3 linked regions of the Homo sapiens genome follow. The main gene of each other region encodes a partner of the protein of the gene in region 3 in a complex. Each region holds a gene or a part of one and is shown on either strand. Other genes may lie near its edges. A codon is read from its position in the direction of its gene.

What was found.
Region 1: the proteins of SUMO2 (region 3) and RANBP2 are in contact, whole or in part, in a crystal structure (PDB 3UIN), measured with the Homo sapiens proteins. Residues at the interface, in NP_008868.3 of Homo sapiens: His17, Asp26, Gly27, Ser28, Val29, Val30, Gln31, Phe32, Lys33, Ile34, Lys35, Thr38, Lys42, Leu43, Arg50, Gln51; in NP_006258.3 of Homo sapiens: Asp2630, Asp2631, Val2632, Leu2633, Ile2634, Val2635, Tyr2636, Glu2637, Leu2638, Pro2654, Thr2656.
Region 2: the proteins of SUMO2 (region 3) and SENP2 are in contact, whole or in part, in a crystal structure (PDB 3ZO5), measured with the Homo sapiens proteins. Residues at the interface, in NP_008868.3 of Homo sapiens: Arg56, Arg59, Arg61, Phe62, Asp63, Gly64, Gln65, Pro66, Asn68, Thr70, Asp71, Gln75, Leu76 (codon at 4,683), Glu77 (codon at 4,686), Asp82 (codon at 4,701), Asp85 (codon at 4,710), Phe87 (codon at 4,716), Gln88 (codon at 4,719), Gln89 (codon at 4,722), Gln90 (codon at 4,725), Thr91 (codon at 4,728), Gly92 (codon at 4,731), Gly93 (codon at 4,734), Val94 (codon at 4,737), Tyr95 (codon at 4,740); in NP_067640.2 of Homo sapiens: Gln385 (codon at 541), Asp386 (codon at 544), Leu395 (codon at 571), Arg396 (codon at 574), Tyr408 (codon at 610), His409 (codon at 613), Trp410 (codon at 616), Leu411 (codon at 619), Asn412 (codon at 622), Asp413 (codon at 625), Glu414 (codon at 628), Ser439 (codon at 2,390), Thr440 (codon at 2,393), Phe441 (codon at 2,396), Pro444 (codon at 2,405), Lys445 (codon at 2,408), Arg456 (codon at 2,441), Trp457 (codon at 2,444), Lys459 (codon at 2,450), His474 (codon at 2,495), Val477 (codon at 2,504), Trp479 (codon at 2,510).

Annotation. Positions count from the first base shown.
Region 1 is NC_000002.12:108,714,883-108,722,643, forward strand, and holds the start of RANBP2 (E3 SUMO-protein ligase RanBP2), read left to right. Parts: upstream 1-4,599; 5' UTR 4,600-4,724; coding exon 4,725-4,796; intron 4,797-7,761. UniProt on the Homo sapiens protein: E3 SUMO-protein ligase which facilitates SUMO1 and SUMO2 conjugation by UBE2I. Involved in transport factor (Ran-GTP, karyopherin)-mediated protein import via the F-G repeat-containing domain which acts as a docking site for substrates.
Region 2 is NC_000003.12:185,616,982-185,624,456, forward strand, and holds part of SENP2 (sentrin-specific protease 2), read left to right. Parts: intron 1-498; coding exon 499-630; intron 631-2,317; coding exon 2,318-2,521; intron 2,522-4,844; coding exon 4,845-4,924; intron 4,925-7,016; coding exon 7,017-7,101; intron 7,102-7,475. UniProt on the Homo sapiens protein: Protease that catalyzes two essential functions in the SUMO pathway.
Region 3 is NC_000017.11:75,165,609-75,173,083, reverse strand, and holds part of SUMO2 (small ubiquitin-related modifier 2 isoform a precursor), read left to right. Parts: intron 1-4,682; coding exon 4,683-4,745; 3' UTR 4,746-7,475. UniProt on the Homo sapiens protein: Ubiquitin-like protein that can be covalently attached to proteins as a monomer or as a lysine-linked polymer.

The sequences.
Region 1 (7,761 bases), on a different chromosome or scaffold from region 3:
GTTTCTTCAGACCCGCAATAAAACTGGTTTAATCCTAAATGGGTCCTGTTGAGAACTCCTTCGTTATGGGCTGGGTGCGGTGGCTCATGCCTGTAATCCAAACACTTTGGGAAGCTAAGGTGGGTGGATCACGAGGTCAAGAGATCGAGACCAGCCTGGCCAACATGGTGAAAGCCCATCTCTACTAAAAATACAAAAATTAGCCGGGCGTGGTCATGCATGCCTGTAATCCCAGCTACTCAGGAGGCTGAGGCAGGAGAATCACTTGAACCTGGGAGGCAGAGGTTGCAGCGAGCCAAGATCCTGCTGCTACACTCTAGCCTGGGTGACAGAGGAAGACTCCATCTCAAAAAAAAAAAAAAATTCCTTCATTATTGTGTCATGCTTTAAGGCCCAGGACAGGCCTAGGCAAAAGTTTTGATGGCCTTTTGTTACATCCCAGCCTTTGTATAAGGGCACTGGCTTTTAGTATTTAACTTCATTCAGTAATTACTGAAACAGTTGTTATGAAAGTCTGCATTAGTGAGACCTGGCCTGCCACAGGAGGTTGCAGTGAGCTGAGATCTTGCCACTGTACTCCAGCCTGGGTGGCAGTGTGAGACTCTGTCTCAAAAAAGAAAAATGATGCAGAAAGATTTGTTTGACACAGGGTGGGCATAAACTTTCAATTTGTAAAAAACATAGTATCTGTGAAGTACAATAAAATGTAGTGCGATAAAATGAGGTATGCTTGGACAGCAAAACATCATGTTGTACCTAGTAAATGTATACAATTTTTATTTGTGAATTATACCTCAATAAAGCTGGACAAATGAACTGTATTTGCAACATGGTAGGGAATATATGACATTGGACACTAATGCAAATGGAATTTTCAGTGCCTTGGTGAAAATGTTATACCACTGAACAAAAAAAAAATGTAGTGTAAAATGAAGTAAAATGTGAAAATCCCTAATAAATGCAGAAATATGAACTGCTTATCCAAAAGAGAAAAGTCTTTTGAGTTCCTCAAGAAGATTCTCTCTTTGGATGCTGGGCGCGGTGGATGCCGGGCACCTGTATCCGAGCACTTTGGGAGGCCGAGGCAGATGGATCACTGGAGGCCAGGAGTTCAAGACCAGCCTGTCCAACACGGTGAAACCCCGTCTCTACTAAAAATACAACAATAACCCGGGTGTGATGGCATGTACCTGTAATCCCAGCTACTCAGGAGGCTGAGGCACAAGAATTGCTTGAACCTGGGAGGCAGAGGTTGCAGTGAGCCGAGATTGTGCCACTGCAGTCCAACCTGGACCACAGAGTGAAACTCCGTCTCAAAAAAAAAAAAAAAAGAAAGAAGGAAAAAGAAGGTTCTCTCTTTGGGCACTCCTTTTCGATATATTCAACATAAATGGATTAATGATACCATTTTTACTAGGTGAGTATGTTTGGGCAAGTTGCTTCAGTGCTCATTCTCTTGGTTTCCTTTTTTTTTTTTTTTTTTTGGAGACAGGGTCTTTCTCTGTCACCTAAGCTGGAGTGCAGTGGAGTGAACATAGCTCACTGCAGCCTCCAACACCTAGCCTCAAGAGATCCTCCTGCTTCAGTCTCCCAAATAGCTGGGACTACTGGCAGGCACCACCATGCCTGGCTAGTTTTTAATTTCTTTTTTTTTGTAAGCACAGGGTGTTGCTATGTTGCCCAGGCAGGTCTTGAACTACTGGGCTCAAGTGATCCTCCCACCTCAGCCTCCCAAAGTTTTGGATTACAGGCATGAGCCATGGTGCCTGGCTGTCTTTTGCTTTCCTTATCTGTAAAAACTGAGGATAATAACAGTACCCTTACAAAGTTGGTGGAAGAATGATATTAATACAAATGAAGTGCTAACAGAAAGAGCTTTGGAACACAGCAAGTACTTGTTAGCTATGGCTATTGTTATCAACACACTTTTCAAGGCAAACTTGTGGTTTCACCTATCACCTGAGATATATGACTTTTAAGTCCATCAGATCTTCTCTTTTGGTTTTTATTTTTAAATTAATTAAATATTATTATTATTATTATTTTGAGACAGAGTCTGCTCTGTTGCCCAGGCTAGAGTGCACTGGCACGATCTCAGCTCACTGCAACCTCCACCTCCCAGGTTCAAGCAATTCAGGTGCCTCAGCCATCCAAAGAAGCTGGGATTACAGGCATGCACCACCATACCCAGTTAATTTTTGCATTTTTAGTAGAGATAGGGTTTCAACACGTTGGCCAGGCTGGCCTTGAACTCCTGGCCTCAAGCAATCAGCCCATCTGGGCCTCCCAGTGTGCTGGGATTACAGGCGTGAGCCATCGTGCCTGGCCCTCTTTTCGTTTTAGAGATAGGAATCTCATTCTCTTCCACAGGCTGGAGTGCAAAGGCATGAACATAACTCATTGCAGTCTCCAATCCTGGGCTAAAGGGATGTTTCCCCCTCTGCCTTTGGAGTAGCTGGGCCTCAGAACTGTGCCGCAACTACTGACTTCCATCAAGATCTCTGTCCTACCATTTCATCTTCCTACTAGGCTATCCCCACATGGATATATAAATGGTACCTCAAGTGAAAGAAATCAACTACCTAAAATAGGATTTTCCACTCCAAACTAGATTTTCTTTACATGTCATTTCTGTTAATGTGGGTCACACACACTGGTAAGCTCAGAATCATCTTTTTCTTTTCTTTTATTCACATCCAATATTGTTGAAATAAAACAAAATGCTGTTTTTCCTTTTTTAGAAAGGCAATACTTGTTCATTATATCAAAATTTAGAAAATATGGAAAAACAAAAAGGATAAAAAATTATCCACAACCAAAATAGCCCAAATTTCCAGTTAAAAATGTCAACGCATTTGATATTTGTCCACATAATTCAGACTGTAATGTTTACACAAATGTGAGCTTTTAAAATCTAAAAGGTTCTCACTATTAAAAATGTTTTGTTAAATTTTGTTTTAAAAGTAAGATTTTAATATCCAAATTCCCAAAATAGACATTTTTGAAGATTTGGAAAATACAGACGGCTCAAAATCTTTACATTATTACTGTTAAATTTTGGTATGTTCTGTTATTCTGCTAGTGAAATATATATAGATTTGGGGGGGCTATTCCTTTTCCTTTTTTTTTTTTTTTTTGAGACAAGGGTCTCACTCTGGTGCCCAGGATGGAATGCAGTGGCGCTATCACAGTTCATTGTAACCTGGAACTCCTGGACTCGAGGGATCCTCCCGCCTCGACCTCCCAAAGTGCTGGGGCTACCAGCTTAAGCCACTGTGCCAGGCGAATGGCTATTCCTATATACACAGTTGACCCTTGAATAACATGGGTTTGAACTGCCTGGGCCCGCTTATAAGCCGACAGAAAATACAGTATTGGAGGGGCCTGCATATAGAGAGGTCTGACTTTTCCTCTAAGTGTTCCACCCGCAGGACTGACTGCGGGATTTGAGAATGCGCGGACTTCTTCTTCTTCTTTTTTTTTTTAGGAAGTCTTACTCTCGCCCAGGCTTGAGTGCAGTGGCGCGATCTCAGCTCACTGTAACCCTCGCCTCTCAGTTTCAAGCGATTCTCGTGCCTCAGCCTCCCGAGTAGCTGGGATTATAGGGGCCCACCTCCACGCCCAGGTAATTTTTTGTATTTTTAGTAGAGATGGGCTTTCGCCATGTTGGCCAGGCTGGTTTCGAACTCCTGACCTCAGGTGATCCGCCCGCCTCGGCCTCCCAAAGTGCTGGGATTACAGGCGTGAACCACAGCGCCCGGCGGAATGCGTGGATTTTGGCATAAGACGGTGGTTCTGGAACCAATCCCCCGCCGAGATGACTGTTTAAAAAATTGTAATTGTCCAAAACTTAATATTTGTGGTCTTTTTCATTATGCAGTTCTAAATCTCCCTTTTTTTTTTTTTTTAAATTCAGACGGAGTCTCCCTCTGTCGCCCAGACGGCGCAATCTCGGCTCACTGCAACCTCCGCCTCCCGGGTTCAAGCGATTCTCCTGCCTTAGCCTCCGGAGTAGCTGGGACTACAGGCGTCCGACACCACGGCCGGCTAATTTTTTGTATTTTTGGTAGAGATGGGGTTTCCCTGTGCTAGCCAGGATGGTCTCGATTTCCTGACCTCATGATCCGCCCGCCGTGGCCTCTCAAAGTGCTGGGATTACAGGCGTGAGCCACCACGCCTGGCCCTCATTTAATAAGATATGAATTTAAAAATGTATGCTTTAGTATTCACACATGTCCGATGCAACGTATTTAACCAGTCATCTCCAGAAACTTTGTTCCAATTTACACGTTCACCAAATTGGCCTGAGTGCTTTTTTTCTTCCAATGCATTGCGCACTTATAATTTAGAACAAGTGACCAAAACGCTTAAGAGCCCATCACGCAAATTGTTATCTGCTGGAAATCTACGCCCTAGGCTGTGGACACTGGCGGCCGAAATCTGATCCCGGCTTGCCAAGACACCCTCAGAGCACGCGGCGCTGCCAAGAGCCTGGCCGAGTGCAGCTCGAGCGCCGACGTCGCCAACGTGGCGCACACTGCTGACGCAGTACGCAAGTTCGTCACAGTGGTCCTCCGCCGGCTGCGCCGCAAGTTCGTCACAGTGGTCCTCCGCCGGCTACGGCGCTGCGTCACTGGTTTGCAGGCGCTTTCCTCTTGGAAGTGGCGACTGCTGCGGGCCTGAGCGCTGGTCTCACGCGCCTCGGGAGCCAGGTTGGCGGCGCGATGAGGCGCAGCAAGGCTGACGTGGAGCGGTACATCGCCTCGGTGCAGGGCTCCACCCCGTCGCCTCGACAGGTGAGTGGGTCTCGAAGAGACCGACGGCCTCGACCTGGCCGGGCGGCGGCCTCGCGCTGCTCAGGCGTCATGGCTCCCGACGGGCGCTGCTCCCTGGCGCGCTCTGTTGAGGCGCCGGCCGGCTGGCGCAGTCCTGTGGGCGGCGTGGCGCTTGCAAGCGCATGAAGAGTCCTGGGGGGACAGCGGTGGGCGGGAGACCTTTGGCGCCGGCGCTTCCTCTTTCTCCCGGCTTGTTCCCGACGCTTGTTCCCGACGGTGCTCGCTCCTGGGGCCGCCCTGGCCCGGGCTTTCTGGCCGATCGCGCACCCCGTAGTACCCGCGCGGCCTAGTTCTCGGGGGCTTGGGCACCCGGGTGCTGTATCGGCGGGTTTCTTCCCATCTCCTGGACATATACTTTATATGCTGCGGCGGAGGTCGTACCTCCTTGGCCTGGAGGAACCCAGTGGGGACTGACGCAGCTCCGGGTGAGCTTTGGCGGCTGCGTCGAGTGACAAGGTAGGCATCTCAGCGCGGACATTTGCAATGGCCCGACGGCGCAAATGACACTGAAAGTCCCCTTGTTTTGAGTATGAGGTGTTTGTCGCTGTCCCTTTGTAAGGGTCCAGCTCCACTCCGCTCCTCATACTCACCTCCCTCGCCCCCCTCCCCGCCCGGAACACTTTGGTAGCTGCCTTTGCTTAAAAAAAAAAAATTCTAAAGTTCTTACAAATCGTTAGTATGGCTTGCAATTTTTAACCTTTTCCACAAATGTTTTAAGGGTATTTTTCCTCTTTACATGTAAATAATGTGATCTATTTTGGATTCAATAAGACTTTAGTAATTGGATCTAAAGAGTGACGGAAGAAGCTATTAAAGGTGGATGTGCGCAGAATCTTGAGTCAGTTTGCTTTGGCTTGAATAATCACAGCACTGTCGTTTATAAGCTGGGTATTTGGGGCCAGTTACACTTTTCATCCATAGATGGAGTTGTAACATTAATAGAATTTGATAGGATGATCCATTTTAAACATTTAGGGTATTGCTTGACACATAGCACTAAATGTTAGCTACAAGTCACTTTTTATTGTTGATGTTAAAAGGATATTGGCGGGGCGCAGTGGCTCACGCCTGTAATCCCACCACTTTGGGAGGCCGAGGAGGGCGGATTGCCTGAGGTCAGGAGTTCGTGACCAGCCTGGCTAACATGTTGATACCTCGTCTCTACTAAAAATACAAAAAAAGTTAGCCGGGCGTGGTGGCGCATGCCTGTAGTCCCAGCTACCCGGGAGGCTGAGGCAGGAGAGTCGCTTGAACCCGGGAGGCGGAGGTTCCAGTGAGCCGAGATCGCGCTACTGCACTCCAGCCTGGGCGACAGAGGGAGACTCCAAAAAAACAAAAACAAAAACAAAAAAAACCCGGAAACTCACGGATGACCATGATTATAATAGTAGCATAATTGTGTCTCTTATCGTAACTAAGCATAGGTTATCTTATTTTGCGCTTCCAGCAGCCCTGTGGATATTGAGACCTGTAGAGATTTAAGATACTTGTTCAGGGTCAAATAGATAGTGCAGCAGAATTTTGGCAGTGGGTCTGATTTAGTTTCTCTTGGGAACAGTGGAGTAAGTTACAGTCTATTCCTCCAGAGGAGGAGGATAGATATCTACTTGTACATTGTAATTTCAAACTGCTAGCATAGTATAAATATGAATGTGATGATAGAGTCTAAAACAGACCTTAATTGAGGGTTCCTGTAACTCCTGAAATTAAAGACTTTAATTTTTGTGTTATTTTATTTTTTTTGAGGTGGGGTCTCACTCTGTCACCCAGCTGGATGCAGTGGCGCTATCTCGACTCACTGCACCTTCCGCCTCCCCAGCTCAAGCGATGCTCCCACCTCAGTCTCCCGAGTAGTTGGGACCACAGGTGTACCCACCACACCCGCTGTTTTGTTTTGTTTTGTATTTTTGGTAGAGACTGGGTTTCACCATGTTGCCCAGGCTGTTCTTGAACTCCTGGGCTCAAGTGATTTCCCCGCCTCCACTTCCCAAAGTGTTGGGATTATAGGCGTGAGCCACTGCACCGGCCATTATTTTATTTTTGAGACAAGGTCTCTTTCTGTCTCCCAGGCTGGAGTGCTGTGGCGGGATCGTGGCTCACTGCAGCGTTGACGTCCTGGGCTCAATCCATCCTCCCACCTTAGCCTCCTGGGTAGCTGAGACTACAGGCATGTGCCACCATGCCCGGCTTTTTTCTTTAATGTAGAGACGGGGTCTTATCATGTTACCCAGGCTGGTCTCCAACTCCTGGGCTCAAGTGATCCTCCCGCCTTGGCCCCAAGTGCTGAGATTACAGGTGTGAGCCACTCTGCTCAGCCTGATTTTTTTTTTTTTAAACAAGCTTAAAAAAAAAAAAAAGCAAGCTTAGAGCCTTTCTGAGATTCTTAGTGGGGACCTTGGCTTCCAAAAGATTAAAAACCACTGGTCTAGACAGAAGTTAGAATGTTCTTTCAACTACATAACTTCTCCATTAAATAAAGTGGAGTGGTGGCAGAATTTTGAGGATTGGTTATTATGACACCTCTCTTACACTTAGAGTCTTTTTTTTCCCCCAAATTTAAAGTCATTTACATTAGAACCTGGGGATTTCAGCGGAATATGGATTAACTAGTGAGTAACTTTGGAACATGTGAAGCTATTCTGTAAAGTTAGGTTTGAGTGAAATGACAAAACAGGGTGCTTTGGATAGAAGGTAAAGAATGGAGGGAGAAGAGGCAGTGGCTGTGAAGAATATGAAGAGGTTAGTATTCTCCCCCAGTTTGGCAGAGGCTGGCCATCTGTGAACTGCCCATGCTTTCTAGAATGTCGGAGTTTTGGAGTGTGATGATGCGTCTGTATATCATATCTTTCTAGTCTTTCATTGTGCTTTCATTTGTTAGTCTTCTCTTGTTTTGCCATTTTTCTACTCCCTCACATGTGCTTTTGCC
Region 2 (7,475 bases), on a different chromosome or scaffold from region 3:
TGATGTGCTTCAAGCATCTAACACCATGTTTGACTCATAGTGGTTAATACGTAGTAGTAGGAAAATTGAGACTATACTTTAGATGTAAATATTATTATTAAATTATTGTTTCCACAAGCTAATAAGTGAACCAGGATTTGTTGTAAGTATTACTTACAACAATTAAGTAAGGCTGCTTTGTAGTTATAAGTTAAAATATTTTCAGGGCTGGTGCAGTGGCTCATGCCTATAATCTCAGCACTTTGGGAGGCCAAGGCAGGTATTGCTTGAGCCCAGGAGTTTGCAACCAACTTGGGCAATATAATGAGGCCCCATCTCTATCACTAAAAATAAGAAAAAAATGTTTTCCTACTGTAGTTTAGTAGGTCTTTGATAGTATATTTTTCTCAAGAGTCAGGTGTTGCCGAGATGAAAAACTTTTTTCAGTCTCGGAGTTTTCAATAACTGATAATGAATGGTTCTATATTAAAATAGCAACTTCTGAACTTTCTAATTCAGGACATGGAAAAGGAAATCAGTAATGCCCTAGGCCATGGCCCACAGGATGAAATCCTAAGTAGTGCTTTCAAATTGCGAATTACTCGAGGAGATATTCAGACATTAAAGAACTATCACTGGCTCAATGATGAAGTAAGTTGTATTCCCTCCCCCTTTTGGCTATCATTAAGTTTATTTATTTATTATCTATAATCAAAGTGACTCCTACCCAGTTATAATGGGTTGGTAATGCAACTCTTAGTTATAATTAAAACAAAAACATTTTAAATCTTAAAAAGATGGTTAGTTCTGATTTTCTGCCTTTGATTAGCGATGTTTCCCTTTTCTGCGTCTGTATTTTATTGCATCCACCACTTCATTTACTGGTCTTCAATAAACCCTGGGTACAGCTGATAAACGGGAGGAAGCAGCAAGTGATACTGTATTTTAGGTGAATTCTTATAGTAGCTATTTTTTTGTTTTTGTTTTTTGGTTTTGTTTTTGAGACAGAGTTTTGCTCTTGTTGTCCAGGCTGGAGTGCAATGGCGCAATCTTGGCTCAGCGCAACCTCCACCTCCTGGGTTCAAGCAATTCTCCTACCTCAGCCTCCCAAGTAGCTGGGATTACAGGCATGCGCCACCATGCCCGGCTAATTTTGTATTTTTAGTAGAGACAGGGTTTCTCCATGTTGGTCAGGTTGGTCTCAAACTCTGGACCTCAGGTGATCCGCCCGCCTTGGCCTCCCAAAGTGCTGGGATTACAGGCGTGAGCCACCGTGCCTGGCCTGTTTTATTTTTTGAGTAATAAAGGGATATATTGATCACTATATACTATGTGTATTTTTCTTTGAGTGATAGCTGAAAAATTTTGCCTAACTTGTCATCTTGTATCCTTAATACATTTAGCAAAAGCTAACTCTTAAGTTCTTTGACAATTTTCTGGTGGGTTCTTCCCCGAACTGCTTAGCCCCTGCATGTTCTCTCTTTGAGGGAAGTCCCCTATGACTAGTTACTTATAAACACATTCTTTGAAAACAGGAATGTTTTGTTTTACATTATAAATGTAATTTGTTTATCGTAGAATATTTGGAAAATACAGGAAAAGTAAAAAATATTACTGTTCAAAAGTACCACCACTCGGCCGGGCGCGGTGGCTCACGCCTGTAATCCCAGCACTTTGGAAGGCTGAGGCGGGCGGATCACGAGGTCAGGAGACCGAGACCACCCTGACTAACACGGTGAAACCCCGTCTCTACTAAAAATACAAAAAAATTAGCCAGGCATGGTGGCGGGTACCTGTAGTCCCAGCTACTCGGGAGGCTGAGGCAGGAGAATGGTGTGAACCCGGGAGGCAGAGCTTGCAGTGAGCCGAGATCACGCCAGTGGACTCCAGCCTGGGCGACAGGGCAAGACTCCGTCTCAAAAAAAAAGTATCACCACTCAGAGATAAATAAAATATTATTTTGGTGTATGTCCTTCAAGTTAATATTTTAAAATTGAAGTCTAATTTATATGTAGTAAAATTCACTTACTGTTAATATTTCTGCGTATTTTTGGTGTGATACAGTTATGTAGATCTTTCCATTATTGCACAGACTTTCTTCCTGGATTCCTTCTTCTGGCTGTTAAGTGTTACTCACATGCCTTAAAAGTACAGTTTCATTTCATTTTCATGTGTCCCATTTTGCACTGATCACTTTTTTCCCTGTCTTCTACTATAGACAGTCTTTTTATCCTCTTCTTTAGTACCTTACCTTCGAATTCATCCTTATTCAGGTAGAAATTTAGTTTTGATAATATGTTTGCCATGTTCCAGCTTTTGCTCCCTTGGTATTTTGTAGGTCATTAATTTTTACATGAATCTTCTGGTGGAAAGAAATAAAAAGCAAGGCTATCCAGCACTTCATGTATTCAGTACTTTCTTCTATCCTAAATTAAAGTCTGGGGGTTACCAAGCAGTGAAACGATGGACCAAAGGGGTAAATCTCTTTGAACAAGAAATTATTCTGGTGCCTATTCATCGGAAGGTACATTGGAGCCTGGTGGTGAGTAGAGAGGGTTAATGGTTAATTGTTGGACTTGGATAAAGGCCATTTTTTAAAAATAATGCTGCCTTTTTCTGCCCTGTGTATAGAGGCCAATAGTATATATTATAAGCATACTCTGCAGAGTCTCTTTTTAGTTTTTTTTTTAATGTCCCATCCTTCACCCAACCCTTTTAGTTCTTTTTATTTATTTATTCTTTAAAAAATTTTATGTTTATTTTATTTTACTATTTTTTAAAATTACAGACCAGGTCTCGCTCTGTTGCCCAGGCTGGAGTGAACTGGTGTGATCATAGCTCATTGCAGCCTGGAAGTCCTGGACTCAGGTGATCCTCCTGCCTCAGCCTCCTGAGTGACTAGGACTACAGGCATGGTCCACCATGCTTGCCTAATTTTATTTATTTATATATTTGGAAAGATGGAGTCTTGCTATGTTGCCCTGGTTGGTATCCAACGCCTGGCCTCAAGTGGTTCTCCTGCCTCAGTTTTTCAAAGTGTTGGTATTACAGGTGTGAGCCACCATGCCTGGCCTTTTTTTCTTTTTCTTTTTCTTTTTTTTTTTTAAATTTTTATTTTTAGAGACAGGGTCTCATTCTGCCACCCAAGCTGGCATGCAGTGGCACAACCATAGCTCACTGTAACCTCCACCTCCTGGGCACAAGTGATCCTTTCACTTTAGCCTCCCAGGTAGCTGGGACTACAGACATGCACCACTATGCCTGGCTAATTTTTTTTAATTTATTTTAATTTTTTTGTAGAGACAAGAGTCTTGTTTTTTTGCCCAAGCTAGTCTTGAGCTCCTGGCTTTAAGCAGTCCTCCCACCTCAGCCTCTCAGAATGATGGGTGAGATGCCGCACCTGGCCTCCTTTTTAGTTCTTGAGTTGAACAACTTTTAGAAGGCTACAGGACGAAGTCCTTGTACTTGAGGAGCTTTTTTTTGTTTGTTTGTATGTTTTTGAGATGGAGTCTTGCTCTGTTTCCCAGGCTGGAGTGCAATGGCACGATCTCGGCTCACTGCAGCCTCCGCCTCCTGGGTTCAAGCAATTCTCCTGCATCAGCCTCCTGAGTAGCTGGGATTACAGGCACGTGCCACCACCATACCTGGCTAATTTTTGTATTTTCAGTAGAAATGGGGTTTTACCATGTTGGTCAGGCTCGTCTTGAACTCCTGACCTCGTGATCCGCCACCTCAGCCTCCCAAAGTGCTGGGATTATAGGCGGGAGCCACCGCACCTGGCCGAGGAGCTTTCATTTTTAACAGGAAAGAGTCTTAGTATGCATAAGGGTTATTTATATTTATTTAGTTTTGTTTACAAGATAGTACAGGTTTATTGCAGAAAAATGCATTTATAAGGCCAGGTGTGGTGGCTCATGCCTATAATCCCAGACTTTGGGAGGCTGAGGCAGGAGGGGTTGCTTGAGCCCAAGAGTTTGAGACCAGCCTGGGCAACATGGAAAGACCCTGTCTATACAAATTTAAAAATTTGCTGGGCGTGGTGGTGCACACCTGTGGTCCCAGCTTTGTGGGCATGGTGGTGCACACCTGTGAGAGGCTGAGGTGGAAGATTCCCTGAGCCCAGGAGGTCGAGGCTGCAGTGAGCCGTGATCACACCACTGCACTCCAGCCTGGGTCACAGAGTGAGATCTTGTCTCAAAAAAAAAAAAAAAAAAAAAGAGAGAGAGAAAGAAAGAAAAGAAGGAAAGAAAGATACAGATATAAAGAAAGCAAAAAAAAAAAAAAAAGTCTCATCACTCTGAGAGGACCACTAATTTTTTAACTTAAAAACACACTTTTTTTACTAAAGATACGTAAGACACATTTTTAACTAAAAAAAAAAAAATACATGTACCAATATAAGTGGATATCGTTTTTCTTTTTTTTCTTTTTTTTTTTTTTTTTTTTTTTGAGACAGAGTCTCGCTATCACCCAGGCTAGAGTGCAGTGACACAATCTCGGCTCACTGCAACCTCTGCCTCCCGGGTTCAAGTGATTCTTCTGCCTCAGCCTCCTGAGCAGCTAGGATTACAGGCGCGTGCCATCATGCCCGACTAATTTTTGTATTTTTAGTAGAGACGGGGTTTCGCCATGTTGGTCAGGCTGGTCTCGAACTCCTGACCTCATGATCCGCCCGCCTCAGCCTCCCAAAGTGCTGGGATTACAGGTGTGAGCCACCATGCATGGCCCATAAATGGATTTCTAAGATACATAAAAAATTTATATTGGTACATGTATTTTTTAAAAGATGCTTTTATTTTTGGAAGTAAAATTCTCACTCCTCTTACATTTAAGATGTTTCTGGATGTTATCTTTTTCCATTATAGGTGATTGACCTAAGAAAAAAGTGTCTTAAATATCTGGATTCTATGGGACAAAAGGGCCACAGGATCTGTGAGATTCTCCTGTAAGTAAAGGTTGAAAACCTCACTACCCCCTGTTGAGGTGATCTCTCTTTTATCTCATCCTAGGAAGCTGTGTGGATGGTAGTCTAATGTGTAGTTAAGGCTATTTCAGGACTTAGCATGCATTTTATTTTTAAAATAATAGCTGATTTCAACTGAGAAAACGTGTTTAGTAGCATCACTGGAAACAAGTTTGTCATGTATTATGATGTAAAATAGATCTTATTAGAATCCTGTGACTTGCATTAGATTTCTTTGGCATCGATACGTTATTCTGAATGTTCTTAGGAACTGTTAGTTGGGGAGTGCTAGTCCTCTCAATTCTTAAGCCCATTTGTATCTTTATGCTTTCCATGAGAGTTGGGTTTATCTCAGAACCCAGGGGCAGTGTTTAAAGTGTGTGGTTTGAGGAGACTGTTTCAAATAGTAATTGCTATAATAGAAACCAATCTTTAAAGCATACCTACTTCTTAGCTAGGTAAAGTAGTGACATGAGTTGAGTGAGAAAACGCATCAGTAAGATGGGTCCATTTTTCCTTTTCTGCTCACTAGAAGCAATGAAGTTCCTTCTTTTAACTTTACTAAGGACAAATGAATCTTGTGAAGAAAAGTTGTTGCTAACAATAATATTGTTTTAGTATAAAATATTATTTTTATTTATGGTTGTTTATCTTGAATAAAAAGCATAGAGAAGAAAATTCTAAAAATCATAAGATACACCAATTGTTTATAAAATGGTTCTCTTCTAGTCTTTTCTTTGTAAGATGTGTATAAATTGTGCGCACATACATTTGCATTCATATGTATACATATATTATCCCATGTATAGAAATGTTCTTACTGGGATCATACAGTATAGTTTGATGTGCTGCTTATACCAGGATTTGAAAATTCATACTTTATTACATTCATGCTTTTTTTTTTTTTTTTTTTTTTTTGAGATGGAGTCTCATTGTGTCACCCCATGCAGTGGTGCAGTCTCAGCTCACTGCAACCTCTGCCTCCTGGGTTCAAGTGATGCTCGTTCCTCGGCCTCCCAAGAAGCTGGGAGTACAGGCTTCCGTCACTATGCCCGGCTAATTTTTGAATTTTTAGTAGAGACAGGGTTTCTCCATGTTGATCATGCTGGTCTTGAACTCCCAACCTCAGGTGATCCGCCCGCCCCAGCCTCCCAAAGTGCTGGGATTACAGGCGTGAGCCACCGTGCCCGGTGGTCTTTGGCTTTTTATGTTATTTATTTATTTGTTTGTTTTTTGAGATGGAGTTTCACTCTTGCTGCCCAGGCTGGAGTGCAATGGCGTGATCTCGGCTCACCGCAACCTCTGTCTCCCGGGTTCAAGAGATTCTCCTGCCTCAGCTCCCAAGTAGCTGGTATTAAAGGCTTGTGCCACCACGCCCGGCTAATTTTGTATTTTTAGTAGAGATGAGGTTTCTCCATTTTGGTCAGGCTGGTCGCAAACTCCCGACCTCAGGTGATCCATCCGCCTTGGCCTCCCAAAGTGTTGATATACAGGCGTGAGCCACCGCACCCGGCCTATGTTATTTTTTGTATCTTAATTTTGGTGGGGGCATCTAATGCTTATCAACCTGATATATATTTCAACTTTTAAAAACAAGCATGTACAATTTTTATAAGCAGACCTCCCCAAATTAAATAAAAAATCCAGAAAGCCACTTTGGGAGGCTGAGGCAGGCGGGATCACAGGCTCAGGAGATCGAGACCATCCTGGCTAACACGGTGAAACCCCATCTCTACTAAGAAAAATACAAAAAATTAGCAGGGCGTGGTGGCGTGCTCCTGTGGTCCCAGCTACTTGGGAGGCTAAGTCAGGAGAATGGCGTGAACCCGGGAGGCAGAGGTTGCAGTGAGCCGAGATCGCGCCACTGCACTCCAGCCTGGGCGACAGAGCGAGACTCTGTCTCAAAAAAAAAAAAAAAAAAAAAAAATCCAGAAAGCAGTCACGTTTTTAAAAAGCTAATGAATATGGATTTGAGAATGGCATATCTGTTTAACATCAGAAAGCCCTATGTAACCATAATGGTTAATTTCTTTAGGGATTTATTGATGTATTCCTTCTTTGTTTTGCTTTTTAGTCAGTATTTACAGGATGAAAGTAAGACCAAAAGAAATAGTGATCTGAATCTTTTAGAGTGGACCCATCACAGCATGAAACCACACGTGAGTGACGATCATCTACATGTGACATACTTGGTTGCATTTACTAATAGTATATTATCTAGATTTGGCTCCCTTCCTGCCCTTCCTCCCTCCCTGCATGCTTTTAAAGTACACATCTTTTTTTTTCTTTCTTTCTTTTTTGTAGAGATGGGATCTTGCTTTGTTGCCCAGGCTAGTCTCGGGCCTCCCAAAACAAAGTGCTGGGATTACAGGTGTGAGCCACCATGCCTGGCCAGAGTCTACATCTTAAGAATGATCTGCTTCTAAATCTCTAGCAATTAATCTAACTAAAATGGGTGCTTAGCTTTCATCTTCTTGTCTAAATGTAAATATTAACATATGCTTGCATGTCTCTCACAGAATTGGGAAGAAAC
Region 3 (7,475 bases):
ACCCAGTAAAAACTAGAAAGTGATAAATGTGGCATGAAGCAGCACATCCAGATTGTAGTTTTGTTGATAATCTTTGAAAATTGGAAAAGCCCCTGAGTTGTACTGAAAAGAAGAATATTTTGAAGACATTTCAACTGGTGACAGTCTCTCAAAAGGAATTACGGGCCAGGTGCACTTGTTCACACCTGTCATCCTAGCACTTCAGGAGGCTGAGGCAGGCAGATTGCTTGAGGTCAGGAGTTTGAGACCAGCCTGGACAATATGGTGAAACCCCGTGTCTGCCAAAAAATACAAAAATTAGCCAGGCATCGCCGGGCGCAGTGGCTCATGCCTGTGATCCCAGCACTTTGGGAGGCCGAGGTGGGCGGATCACCTGAGGTTGGGAGTTTGAGACCACTCCGACCAACATGGAGAAACCCCGTCTCTACTAAAAATACAAAATTAGCTGGGTGTGGTGGCCTGTAATCCCAGCTGCTCGGGAGGCTGAGGCAGGAGAATCGCTTGAACCCAGGAGGCAGAGGTTGCAGTGAGCCGGAGATCACGCCATTGCACTCGAGCATGGGTAACGAGCGAAACTCAAAAAAAAAAAAAAAAAATTTAGCCAGGCATGATGGTGCACGCCTGTAGTCCCAGCTACTCAGGAGGCTGAGGCAGGAGAATCACCTGAACCCGAGAGGCGGAGATTAAAGTCAGCAGAGATAGTGCCACTGCACTCCAGCCTGGGTAACAGCCCCTGTCTCAAAAAAAAAAAAAAAAAAGTCTGGGTACAGTAGCTCACGACTGTAATCCTAGCACTTTGGGAGGCCAAGGCAAGTTGATCACCTGAGGTCAGCAGTTCAAGACCAGCCTGGCCAACATGGCGAAACTACCCCGTCTCTACTAAAAATACAAAAATTAGCCGGGCATGGTGGTGCTCACCTGTAATCCCATCCCAGCTACTCGGGAGATTGAGCCAGGAGAATCTGGGCGGGGGAAAGGTGTCAGACAGTCGAGGTTGCAGTGAGCGCGGAGGTCATGCCACTTCACTCTAGCTTGGGTGAAAGAGTGAAACCCTGTCAAAAAAAAAAAAAAAGGCGCAATTATGGTATGTAGCCACAAGGAGGAGCTAAATTCTATTGATAAATGAGGCTGGTACAGGAACCTCATTTTTTAAAGGCATTTACAGTTTCACTGTAAAACTTCACATTTGGATAATTTTGTTTTAGTAGATAGATGACAGGCTTGTTTGGTTTTAAAAGAAATAGTAAAAAGTATCTATTGTGCTGTACTCTCAGTTATTAGAATGTATTTCCTGTCTTTAAGCCCTCCTTACCCACCACTAAAACGGGATTATCTGCTATAGTAGTTACAAATATTAAACAAGGAGTTATTTGTTTGGATCCGTGACCTTGAGGCATTTTAAAATCTTCAGGTTGAATTTGCAATTCATTTTACTTCATTTTGAAGAATTTGGAATTGATTCGTTTTAGAATTATTCTCCCAATATTTGTTAGATAGCAGGATTGTGATAAATTAAAACATCTTAGCAGGCCTCCTGCCTCCCCAGCTTTTTTTTATTTTTTTATTTTTCGAGACGGAGTTTTGCCCTGTCTCCCAGACTGGAGTGCAGTGGCGTGATCTCAGCTCACTGCAACCTCTGCTTCCTGGGTTCAAGCGATTCTCCTGCCTCAGCTTCCCGAGTAGCTGGGATTACAGGCGCCCACCATGATGCCTGGCTAATTTTGTTTTTATTTTATTTGTTTATGTTGTTTTTATTTTATTTTCTGTATTGACGGAGTCAGTACAAAATTAGCTGGGCATGATGGCGCATGCCTGTAATCCCAGCTACTTGGGAGGCTGAGGCAGGAGAATTGCTTGACCCGGGAGGCAGAGGTTGCAGTGAGCCAAGATTGCGCCATTGCACTCCACCCTGGGCAACAACAGCGAAACTCCATCGCAAGAAAAAATAGAAAAACACAAATGTAGTCATACAATAAGCTGCTTTGCTCCTTGGGGTGTACTTTTTTTTTTTTTTAACTGCCCCTTACAGAGCATGGCTAACTTATATAGTCAGTGCACCGAGTTGGCTGCTGCTTAGTTTTAAAATTGTGTTTTTAGCCTAACACTGTATCTACTGTATCTTAAAGATATTTTCATTTCTGTACATGAAAATCTTATTTTTTAACGGCTATATGGTATTTAATATCTGAGCATACTATGTTTTATTAATTTGGGTTTTTTTTTTTTTTTTTTGAGACCTGGAGTCTCGCACTGTCACCCAGGCTGGAGTGCAGTGGCGTGATCTCAGCTCACTATAACCTCCACCTCCCAGGTTCAAGTGATTCTCCTGCCTCAGCCTCCTGAGTGGCTGGGATTACAGGCACCTGCCACCATGCCCAGCTAATTTTTTGTATTTTTAGTAGAGACGGGGTTTCACTATGTTGGCCAGGCTGGTCTCGAATGACTGACCTTGTGAGCCACCACGCCTGCCGTGGGTTTTTTGTTTTGGTGTTTTTTGTTTTTGTTTTTGTTTTTTGAGACAGAGTCTTGCTCTGTTGCCAGGCTGGAGTGCAGTGGGGCAATCACAGCTCACTGTAACCTCCACTTCACGGGTTCAAGTGATTCTCCTGCCTCAGCCTCCCGAGTAGCTGGGACTACAGGCGTGCGCAACCACACCCAGCTAATTTTTGTATTTTTGGTAGAAACAGGGTTTCACCATGTTGGCCAGGATGGGTTTGACCTGTTGACCTGGTGATCCGCCCACCTTGGCCTCCCAAAGTGTTGGGATTATAGGCGTGAGCCCCGGCGCCCAGCCTAATTTGGGTTTTTATTGAGATTTGTTTTCAGTCTTTGCTAAGCAGTGCAGCGAGATTCTTTAAACATATCACCCTTCTGTGGGCCCTCGACACAGACATATTCAGCTTTCATTTATTTAATTTTTTTGAGACAGTTTCTTGTCACATGCAATGGCATGATCTTGGCTCACTGCAACCTCCACCTCCTGGGTTCAAGTGATTCTCCTGCCTCAGCCTCCCAAGTAGCTGGGATTACAGGCGTGCAGGCGTGCGCCACCACGCCCAGCTAATTTTTTTGTTTTGTTTTTTGTATTTTTAGTAGAGACTGGGTTTCACCATTTTGGCCAGGCTGGTCTTGAACTCCCGACCTCAGGTGATCTGCCTGCCTCGGCCTCCCAAAGTGTTGAGATTACAGGTGTGAGCTGCCACACCCGCCCCCCCCCACCTTTTTTTTTTTTTTTGAGACCAAGTCTCACTCTGTCACCGGTGTTGGAGTCCAGTGGCACAATCTTGGCTCACCACAACCTCTGCTTCCTGGGTTCAAGCGATTCTCCTGCCTCAGCCTCCCGAATAGCTGGGATTACGGGCACATGCCACCATGCCCGGCTAATTTAAAAAATATTTTTAGGCCGGGTGCAGTGGTTCACGCCTATAATCCCAGCATTTTGGGAGGCCGAGGAGGGTGGATCATGAGGTCAGGAGATCTAGACTGTCCTGGCTAACACGGTGAAACCCCGTCTCTACTAAAAATACAAAAAATTAGCCAGGCGTTGTGGCGGGCACCTGTAGTCCCAGCTACTCGGGAGGCTGAGGCAGGAGAATGGCGTGAACCCAGGAGGCGGAGCTTGCAGTGAGCTGAGATCCTGCCACTGGACTCCAGCCTGGGCGACACAGGGAGACTCCGTCTCAAAAAAAAAAAAAAAATTTTTTTTTAATAGGGATGGGGTGTCACCAGGTTGGCCAGGCTGGTCTTGAACTCCTGACCTCAGGTGACCCGCCCACTTCAGCCTCCCAAAGTGTTGAGATTACAGGAGTGAGCCATTGTGCGTGGCCCTAGCCTTTTTTTCTCTTTTTTTGATACAGGATCTTTTGCTTTGTCACTCAGGCTGGAGTGAGCTGGTGTGGTCTCAGTTCACTGCAGCCTTGATCTTATGGGCTCAATTGATCCTCCCACCTCGGCTTCCTGAGTAGCTGGGAGTATGGACATGTGTCACCATGGCTGGCTAATTTTTTTTTTTTTTCCTTTTTTTTTTTGTAGAGATGTTGTCTCCCTATGTTGCCCAGGTGGTCTCGGTCTCTTGGGCTCAAGCAATCCTCCAATGTTGGCCTCCAGTAGTACTGGGATTACAGGCATGAGCCACCGCACCTGGCTAATATTCTGCTTTTTACTCAAAAACTAAGTTTTGGCTGGGCGCAGTGGCTCACACCTGTAATCCCAGCACTTTGGGAGGCCGAGGCAGGCAGATCACTTGAGCTCAGGAGTTTGAGACCAGCCTGGCCAACATGACGAAACCCCATCTCTACTAAAAATACAAAAAAATTAGCTGGGCATGGTGGCGGATGCCTGTAATCTCAGCTACTTGGGAGACTGAGGCAGGAGAATTGCTTGAACCTGAGGGGTGGACGTTGCAGTGAGCTGAGATCACGCCACTGCAGTCCAGCCTGGGTGACAGAAATCCTGTCTCAAAAAAAAAACAAAAAAGTTTTATCTAATAGTCATAAAAAAGGAAGCCAAGTGAAAAATTACTTAAACCAAGTGTGTTGATACATTAAGCTATGAGACATCTAAAATAATGAAACTTGGAACTTAGTGGAACATGTACATGTTTTCAGCATACTTAAACCCAAAAATCATTAATTTTCAGAACTTAATCAGTGCTTTTACATTTGTTTTTTCTTTTATGCTAGTTGGAAATGGAGGATGAAGATACAATTGATGTGTTCCAACAGCAGACGGGAGGTGTCTACTGAAAAGGGAACCTGCTTCTTTACTCCAGAACTCTGTTCTTTAAAGACCAAGATTACATTCTCAATTAGAAAACTGCAATTTGGTTCCACCACATCCTGACTACTACCGTATAGTTTTCTCTATTCTTTCATTTCCCCCTTCCCCATTCCTTTATTGTACATAAAGTAACTGGTATATGTGCACAAGCATATTGCATTTTTTTTTTTTTTAACTAAACAGCCAATGGTATGTTTTGATTGACATCAAGTGGAGACGGGATGGGGAAAAATACTGATTCTGTGAAAATACCCCCTTTCTCCATTAGTGGCATGCTCATTCAGCTCTTATCTTTATATTCCAGTAAGTTATTTTGCTCTCACTGTTTTAACAAAAAAAAAAAACAACAACATAAAAATCCTTGCATACCTTGTTCAATTGGAGAATTTTAATGTTTTTCATTTATCATTGTAAAACCAAGGACAATTTTATAACTTTTTTGTACGTAGCTGTTACATGTAGGGCAATCTGTCTTTAAGTAGGGATAAATTACTCTAAAACAAAAAAGAATCCTAGATAGTTTTCCCTTCAAGTCAAGCGTCTTGTTGTTTAAATAAACTTCTTGTTTAAAATGAGCTGTTTTCTTTATTCTGAGAAATATTAAATAGAAAATTGAGGCTTAGAAAAAACATAAATAGGCCTGCTTAGAAGTAACATTTCAAGAAGGAAATAAAGCTACTTGGTGTTTCTGACAGACTGATACTGATGCCAAACAAAGAATAACAGTTTTATAAATATCACCTTGTTCCAAAAGTTTCTCTAGGTCCCATGTTAATATGCAAGTATACTAGCAGAAAAATTGGGCCATAGTATCGTGGATTTCCAGGTATTTTCTGTATATTAAGTGAGGCACGGAGCATAGGGTATAGGGTAGCACATGTGGCAAGGAAAAAGTTCTGATTTTGCCTTTGTTGCTGATAAAACACTGAACCATTCTAGCCTGCACTTATCATAAGTAAATACTCCCTAACCTAAAATAAAGTTTTCGTTCCTTATTCAAGGATTTTTTTTTTGAGACGGAGTTTTCCTCTTGTTGCCCAGGCTGGAGTGTAGTGGTGCAATTTCAGCTCACTGCAACCTCAGCCTCCTGAGTAGCTGGGGGGTCATAGGTGCATGCCACCACGCCCAGCTAATTTTTTTTCTATTTTTAGTCGAGACAGGGTTTTATCACGTATGCCAGGCTGGTCTCGAACTCCTGACCTTAGGTGATCCACCCGCCTCAGCCTCCCAAAGTGCAGGGATTACGGCATGAGCCACCACGCCTGGCCTATTCAAGAATATTGAGGGACAGAAAATATCTATATATATCCATCCTCAGAACCTTAAATATACAGGTCACTACAGTCTTTATTATTTTAATTTTTGTTTCTTAGGGTTTCTTTTGGTGGTGGTTTTTTGAGATGGAGCATCATTCCGTCTCCCAGGCTGTAGTGCAGTGGCACAATCTTGGCTCACTGCAAGCTCCGCCTCCCGGGTTCACGCCATTCTCCTGCCTCAGCCTCCCGTCTTAGGTCTTTTTGAAAGAGGTTATGCCTCTGTTGCCTAGTCTGGAGTGGTGCAATGGTGTGATCTTGGCTCACTGCAACCTCCACCTCCAGGTCTTAAGAGATCCTCCCTGCTCAGCCTCGTGAGTAGCTAGAACCGCAGGTGCATGCCACCACAGCTAATTCTTGTATTTTTTATAGAGAGTGTTTCGCCATATTGTCCAGGCCGGGCTCAAACCCCTGATCTTAAGTGATCTATCTGCCTTAGCCTCCCAATGTGCTGGGTTTACAGGCGTGAGCCACTATGCCCAGCCCCTTTTTAATTTTTTAAAAATGTTTATTTTTGAGATGGAGTTTCGCTCTTGTTGCCCCAACTGGAGACCAATGACATGATCTCAGCTCACTGCAACCTCCGCCTCCCGGGTTCAACTGATTCTCCTCCCTCAGCCTCCGGAAAAGCTGGGATTACAAGCATCTACCATCATACCTGGCTAATTCTGTATTTTTAGTAGAGAAGGGGTTTCTCTATGTTGGTCAGGCTGGTCTCCACCTCCCGACCTCAGGTGATCTGCCTGCCTTGGCCTCCCAAAGTGCTGAGATTACAGGCTTGAGCCACTGTGCCCGGCCAAATTTTTATTATTTTTAAATTAGAGGTGGGGTCTCACCATGTTGACCAGTTTGGTCTCGAACTTCTGGCCTCAGTCCCTTGTCTTGGCCTCCCAAAGTGTTGGGGTTTCAGGTGTTAGACCCCATGCCCAACCACTACAGTTTTTGTTTTTGTTTTTGTTTTTTTTTCAGACGGAGTCTTGCTCTGTCGCCCAGGCTGGAGTGCAGTGGCGCAATCTTGGCTCACGGCAAGCTCCACCTCCCGGGTTCACGCCATTCTCCTGCCTCAGCCTCCCCAGTAGCTGGGACTAAAGGTGCCCGCCACCATGCCCGGCTAATTTTTTTGTATTTTTAGTAGAGACAGGGCTTCACCATGTTAGCCAGGCTGGTCTCAAACTCCTGACCTCAGTTCATCCACCCGCCTTGGCCTTCCAAAGTGCTGGGATTACAGGCATGATCCACTGCGCCCGGCCTCACTGCCATTTTATAGATGAGAAAGCCAAGTTCCAGAAAAGTTGTGAAATAGACGGTGACTATAAAACTGGGACTAGAGATAGTATCCTAATGCTTGTTGATTGTTTTTGTCCATACTGATTGTCAACCTAC